2 linked regions of the Homo sapiens genome follow. The protein of the gene in region 1 interacts with the protein of each later gene in a pairwise test. Each region holds a gene or a part of one and is shown in the gene's direction. Other genes may lie near its edges.

What was found. The genes of interacting proteins can lie anywhere in the genome.
Region 2: the proteins of CRY2 (region 1) and VWC2 interact in binary tests that used the Homo sapiens proteins (3 or more experiments, as listed by UniProt).

The regions. Positions count from the first base shown.
Region 1 is NC_000011.10:45,857,372-45,861,030, forward strand, and holds part of CRY2 (cryptochrome-2), read left to right. Parts: intron 1-1,359; coding exon 1,360-1,502; intron 1,503-3,476; coding exon 3,477-3,659. UniProt on the Homo sapiens protein: Transcriptional repressor which forms a core component of the circadian clock.
Region 2 is NC_000007.14:49,919,455-49,922,520, forward strand, and holds the end of VWC2 (brorin precursor), read left to right. Parts: 3' UTR 1-2,496; downstream 2,497-3,066. UniProt on the Homo sapiens protein: BMP antagonist which may play a role in neural development. Promotes cell adhesion.

The DNA.
Region 1 (3,659 bases):
CCTTACCCACCATACCATATAAATACATTTGCCTCCCTTCTCCCCTCGACATTGCCCTTTTTCTCCCCCAGCAACTCAGAGGCCAACCCACTTATATCCCAGAGATATAGCTAGGTCATCCATTCAGTCATGTAATGTATTTTTATTGAGCTTCTGCTAGGTACTAGGCCCCATACTAGGTATAAGGGTAATGATGATGAGTGAGACAACATGGTTTCTGCTCTGAGAGTTCACACTAATAGGGGAAACAGGCAAGTGTATCATTGTCATATAATACATGCTGCAGTGGAAAAAAGACAAGGTGCAGAAGAATTATATTGAAGGAGGAGGTCAAGAAGGCTTCTTGGAGAAAATGTAATTTAATAATATTGTTATTCACAGGTTACAATGAGTATTCAGTGATGTAACCTATATGAACTATAAGCATGGTACCTGGCATATAGCAAGGGCTCAATCAATGTTTAATGCTGATATCCTCGAATGAGGGATAACTGGCCCTGCTAAGGACCCAGTCCCCGGGCAGGGCTGAGTCAGGACCAGACCAGCCTGTGCATGGCTAGGACATTTGCCCCTGTGGTTCAGAGCTTTCAGAGACTATGACCAGAGACTTTGGAGAATGTGTTTTTCTTCTTGCAAGTTGCATGCTCTAGGGCTTTCTGTGGGTTGACTGTACAACCATTCACTGGGCCAGCTTGCTATGAGATCTAGAAATTCCTACCAGAAATGACTAAAGGCTTAGGAAAGAACTTCCTCCTTTTCAACATGTAGCCCCTCTGGTCAGTTTCCTCTGACCTCCAGACTAAGGATCGCTTCCCCTTTCCTGACTCTCTCAGGGCTGGAACCTATTAGCTCTGTTTGCTATTGGCCTCAGGAGTGTTGCTGTGGAAACAATTAAGACACTTCACATAGCACAACTCTGCCAAGAAAACTAGGCCACAAGTCTGCAGGGCTGTGAGGAGCTCTGGGAAAAGCTTGCTGAGCAGGCAGAAGGCTGTGGTCCTGTCCCACCTGTGAGTCAGTGCCACTCTCTGGGACTGGGGGTTTCCCAGGAGCGTTGTATTTATGGCCTCCTGCTGCATTCTCCTACCTCAAGGACACAGCAAGTGCACAAGGCTGCCTACCTCTCTCCCAACTCCACTGTTGCTGTGCTGTTGGCTTCGCCACACTGCCTGCCCTCCTCAAACTTTCTGAACCTCAGCTTGTTTGCTTTCCAGATCAAATCCCTGTTCCTAGTTTTTTCTGCTGCCCATCAGATAGGTCTCTAGACTAGCTCTGTTCTCTCCCAGGAAGGAACTGAGAGTCCAGCTTCCCCCTCCTCCCCAAACACAGTGTTGAGCATAACAGATCCTCTCCCCACAGGAATGGGGAGTGACCCGCTTGACCTTTGAATATGACTCTGAACCCTTTGGGAAAGAACGGGATGCAGCCATCATGAAGATGGCCAAGGAGGCTGGTGTGGAAGTAGTGACGGAGAATTCTCATACCCTCTATGACCTGGACAGGTAAGAGATGGGGCCCAGGGATCAGGTTACCAATTGTGAGAGTTAGTAATTTGGGCCCCTGCTGAGCGGAACTCAGAGAGGTTCAGCATTAGGGCTACCTGACCCAGGAGGCATGGCATCTTCTAGAAGCTGGAGGAGAATAGGCCAGAGTCAGGACCTGTAGAACAGGTCACAAAGAGCTTTACCCCATTGAGGTGGCAGAGAGGCTTGTTAGGCCCAAAGCATGGAAGCAGTGAGGACCCACACTCAGGGTATTTACAAATCTGCTCCTAGTATGCCCGAGTCCCACCTGTGCCTCATATTCCCACTTCCATCCTGCTCAACAGCTGCCCTCTGACCTCAGTGGACCCTGTCTGTTACCCCTCCAACAGACCTCTGTTCACACAGGTCCAGTTTTTGTACCTAAGATGAGTTCCTAGGCTGGGCATGCTGGCTCATGCCTGTAATCCCAGCACTTTGAGAGGATCACATGAGTCCATGAGTTCAAGATCAGCCTGGGCAACATAGTGAGACCCCCGTCTCTACTAAAAATAAATATATTAGCCATGCATGGTGGGACATGCCTGTAGTCCCAATTACTGAAGAGGCTGAGGTTGGAGGATCACTTGAGCCCAGGGGCTTGAGGCTGCCATGAGCTGTGATCATGCCACGTCACTCCAGCCTGGGTGACAGAGCAAGATCCTGTGTCAAAAAAAAAAAAAAAAGAGTTCCCAGGTTCTATGACTATCTGGGTTTCCAGGCCATGTTGCTTGGTGGCGGGGAGGGCTCTAGAGATCCCTGCAGGGAGCTGCTAACTACAGAGGAGCCTCCTCCCCTGGTGACAGCCTCTGTGCTTTCAGAGATTCTAGGAGGAAATCCTCTCCTCCCCTTCCCTGCCATGCCAGAGCTGTCACCCTCCTGCTGCTGCTGCTGCTGTTGCTGCTGCTGCCAAGCCAGCAGCCGCCGCCGCTCCCCACCCCCACTTCCCAACCCAGTGCTGGCTGCCAAGAAGCCAGGTCACACAGCTGTGCACGTGAGCCGGGCCCTCAGGAGGAGAGGCTGGGTGTGGAGATCCTCCTCCTGCTGCGTGCCAGAGGAGAGGGAGGCATAGCAGAGGCAGCAGCCGACCATATATCTCCACTAACGTGGGGAGAGCAAACTGAGAAATGAACTCACCCAGCCAGATGGGCCTTGCGTAAGCTACTTCTTGGCCAAGAAGAGCCCCGGGAATGTGGCTCCATACCATCCCAATTCATCCTTATATAAACAGCCTCCGTTCTCTTCTTCGCCCTCTGATACTCCTTCCTTCTTGCATGAGTGCAGTTATGTTTTCCCTGGTCATGAAAAATACTTTGTAAACTACAAGACTCTCTTTAAGTATCAGTTGTGGCTATGAACTCTAGCTCCAGTCTCTGAATTTGGGAGGATAAGCTGTCTTCCACCTCTCTGTTCAATGTTCTAATAAATGGAGGCTAAGAAGGGGATGATTTTCCAAGAAAGGAACATGTCTGCTATTCCTTATGATGTTAGAGTTAAAAAAAAAAAAAAAAAAAACATGTCTTCAGCTCTTATCAAAGAACTTTCTCCAGGGCTTACATGGGTGGTAGAGGCCTATGGGGATTCCCTTAGCTTGGACAGATAGGCCAAGTGCCAAGCAGGCTAGTAGGGATTTTTCTGTGATTAGAGATTTTGTCAGTCTCTGTCTTTAGGCGGCTCTGCGTCAACACCAGGGAGCCCGGAATTGAGTCCCAGCTCTGGCCCTGCCTTGCTCCATTACTGAGGCACCTGCTTCAGCTCTCTGGGCTTTATTTTCCCTCTCGGTAAAATGGAGATGCGGCCTCCCTTGCCCCCTCCTTTCCACTCAGGCATGGGACCTGTGAGTGGATGAGGAAAGCCACCCTCAAAGCCTTCAGAGTCTGGGTTCTTTTTTGGGTGGGCAGGGACCCACATCACAGGGCCATGTGGGTAACACTAGCTATGCTTTGGGCTCCCCAGGATCATTGAGCTGAATGGGCAGAAGCCACCCCTTACATACAAGCGCTTTCAGGCCATCATCAGCCGCATGGAGCTGCCCAAGAAGCCAGTGGGCTTGGTGACCAGCCAGCAGATGGAGAGCTGCAGGGCCGAGATCCAGGAGAACCACGACGAGACCTACGGCGTGCCCTCCCTGGAGGAGCT
Region 2 (3,066 bases), on another chromosome or scaffold:
AAATTATGAAGTTACCATTGTATGTTCCAATGACATAAAAAACTAAGTGCCTGCTTGGGCTAGTTATACTCTGCAGTATACCCTGGTTTATTGTGAGGATTAAATAAAAAATCCTCACAAACCCCAATTTAATTTAATATAGATTAATTATAAAAATAATCTACCCATGTTACATAATGTTAAATCTGTAGTTTCAAGGTGTATGCTATTTCTTAAAACAAAAACAAAGATTGTCCCCACTCCAAACAATAACAGCAATGGTGAAGGTTGTGGGTGGACAGAGGTAGTCCCACTCATCCCCAGGGGGCTCAGCTGCCACCGGCCAGGTCTATCTATTGCTCCCACCTGCTCTGACTGTTTTCTCTCAAGAAAAAGATTTTCATTTTAAGATAGGCATCAGTGCAATAAAGGAGCTTGATACAAAAATCATTATGTTCTATATATGTTTTTGTAGGTTTTAGATTAATTATGGCCAACTGATACCTTAAAATATTTGTTACAAATAACACTGAAGTGAGATTCAAAATTGTGCCTTCTATTGAAGCCAAGAAAGTAAATGTCTTTAAAATAAACATAATGGTGTTTTTTTTTGGTACAATAAACAGCATACCTACATTTCAGAGGACAAATCATGTTATTATAATAACCAGGAGAGAAAATAAAAGGAGACATTAATTTGGATATGGAAGCAAAATGGAACAGAGCAATATAGAGCAAAACAGAGGTTTGTCTGAAACATTTAAAATATTAAGAAGTATGACTAAAAAACTCAAACATTTTAATACACGATGAATCCTTTTCTTAAGGAAAAAATGAAAATAATAAAAGTGGTATTTGGATGAGATAATTTTCCTTTAAATTTATTCCTCAGAATGATGTAAATTTTCCAGCTGGAAGGTCATCTTTCTATACATGCATGCATCTATACAAATGGTTAAACAGTTACTCTCTCAATTTGCTGTGATAGGAAAGGTGGATATAAATATAAGCAAGGGTCTGATTAAAACAAAACAAAACAAACAAAAGACAAGAGAAGCACTGCATTGTTGGCAAGAAATTCCTTTTAAGTCAGACTTAAGTCCACGGAAAGCTGGACCTAAGCAGTGAAGGATGTAAGGGAACAGAGAGAGACTCTGCTTGGCCGAGTTTGCTATTCTCATTTGTCTATGTCAATACGGCTACATAAAGTTCACAACTATTTGCACATAGCTATAAATATAGCATGAATAAAACACATATGTATTTAATTGTGTTATTTACTATTTATAATTTGAATTGTTTAAAATAATTTTAAATACTTATTCCATAAACTCAGTATTTGAAAACTTAAAAAAAAAGTCATTTTAAATAACATCATTTACCAAGTCTGTGTGATGCTTTACAAGGTACCTGATGAATGTAAAATTATAGCTTTTTGTCTTCATTTCTAATAGACTGTTATAGGGGAAATGTACTAAAATGTTGTACTTATTACATTTATGAATTTCTGACAGTTTCTATAGACTGAGAATAATGATATGCTTTTATAAATTATTTGGTGAAAGTTTTCCAGTAAGTGTTCATGTCCTGTACAAATTTATTAAACAACATCAATTTTACCTAACAACTGTAACCACTAATAAATCATCAGTCACCACCTTTCCTGCATATCTGACAGATGGAGAACACTGTGCTTAGTGTTGAAGATACCAAAGGGAATTCAAGTGAGGGGAAAAGAGGAGAGCAAACTGATCAAAAGGGAATGCCCATGATGCTTTCAGGAAACCAGGGTGAGAACATGCTGGCTGGAGGATGGGTCTGGTTTCCAGCAGAGATGATAGGAGTTAAAAGGCATAGGTGAGTTGTTCCCATCCCTGGCCTGAGCCTTACTCCATAGCTATAGAGACATAGTCTCTAGAAACAAAGGCCAGAGCATCCTTTTAACATTTATATCATAAGTATTCTCAATAAACGTTTGCAATTTATTTGCTTTAATGTAACTTGGCAGTAAAGACTTTGGCCTTTGGAGGTCTGATTCTAATCCCAGTTCTACCACTTACTGGTTATTTATCAGGTACACGTTACCTACCTCTCTGTAACTCAGATTGCTCATCAGTAACATGGGGAGAGTGGTATCAACCACTAAGAGGATTAAATGAGTGAATATTTGTAAAACACGTAGCCTAGAATAGATATTTATAAAGCACAAGATCTATGTAAAGTGTTTATAACATAATACATTGGAATATGAGACTTGAACATTTTGAAGATTCTAATAAATGAATAATTTAATTTAGTGCTCATTTGAAAAATATTTTATCCTCATGTTTACATTTAACACATATAATTTATATCTTAGTTTTTATCCCATTTATATATATATTTACCAGAAAAATGTTTTGTAATACCTTAATTTTATGTGGAGTTGAATTTAAATAATTAGGCCGAATTTGTATGTATTGTTGGATGGGTATGTGTATTGACCTGATTTATAAAATAAAGTATTTATTAAACTGAGTTTTGCACTTCCAGGTAGAGTCACATTTAAGATAATCCTTTGAAATATTTTAGCTTTTGAAAGTAGATTAAGCAAGATAAATAAAATGTATATACGTCATTAAAAATACTTAAAATGCTTTAAATATTTTGAGTTATTTAAAATATAATCCTTGAGGCTCACTCAAATATGTAACTTTTATTTCTCTTATTTAATGAAAGATGGACACTGCTGTACCCTGAAGTAGCATCTATAATATAATATCCCACGGAATTGACTGTGATAATACATTTCTGCTTTGTCATTTCTAAAAGTAAATGTAATGATTATGAAACCTCATATCGAGAAATATGGACTAACAGTAAGTAAATATCTTAGATTCAGATTTCTTTTTTTAATGGAAACACTCTAGAGGCTCCTCTGCGCTGGCTTGGAGAAAGGCTTTTTAAAAAATAAATTAAAACCAAAAAGTATTTTTTCTTAAGGCTACGAACTTCCCATTCCGGAACTGGAAGATTAGGCAATTTAGAACAATCCTTCTGCCAAGGGCAACTGGAAAATCTGGGCAGAATAGACAGTTCTTCCTGAAG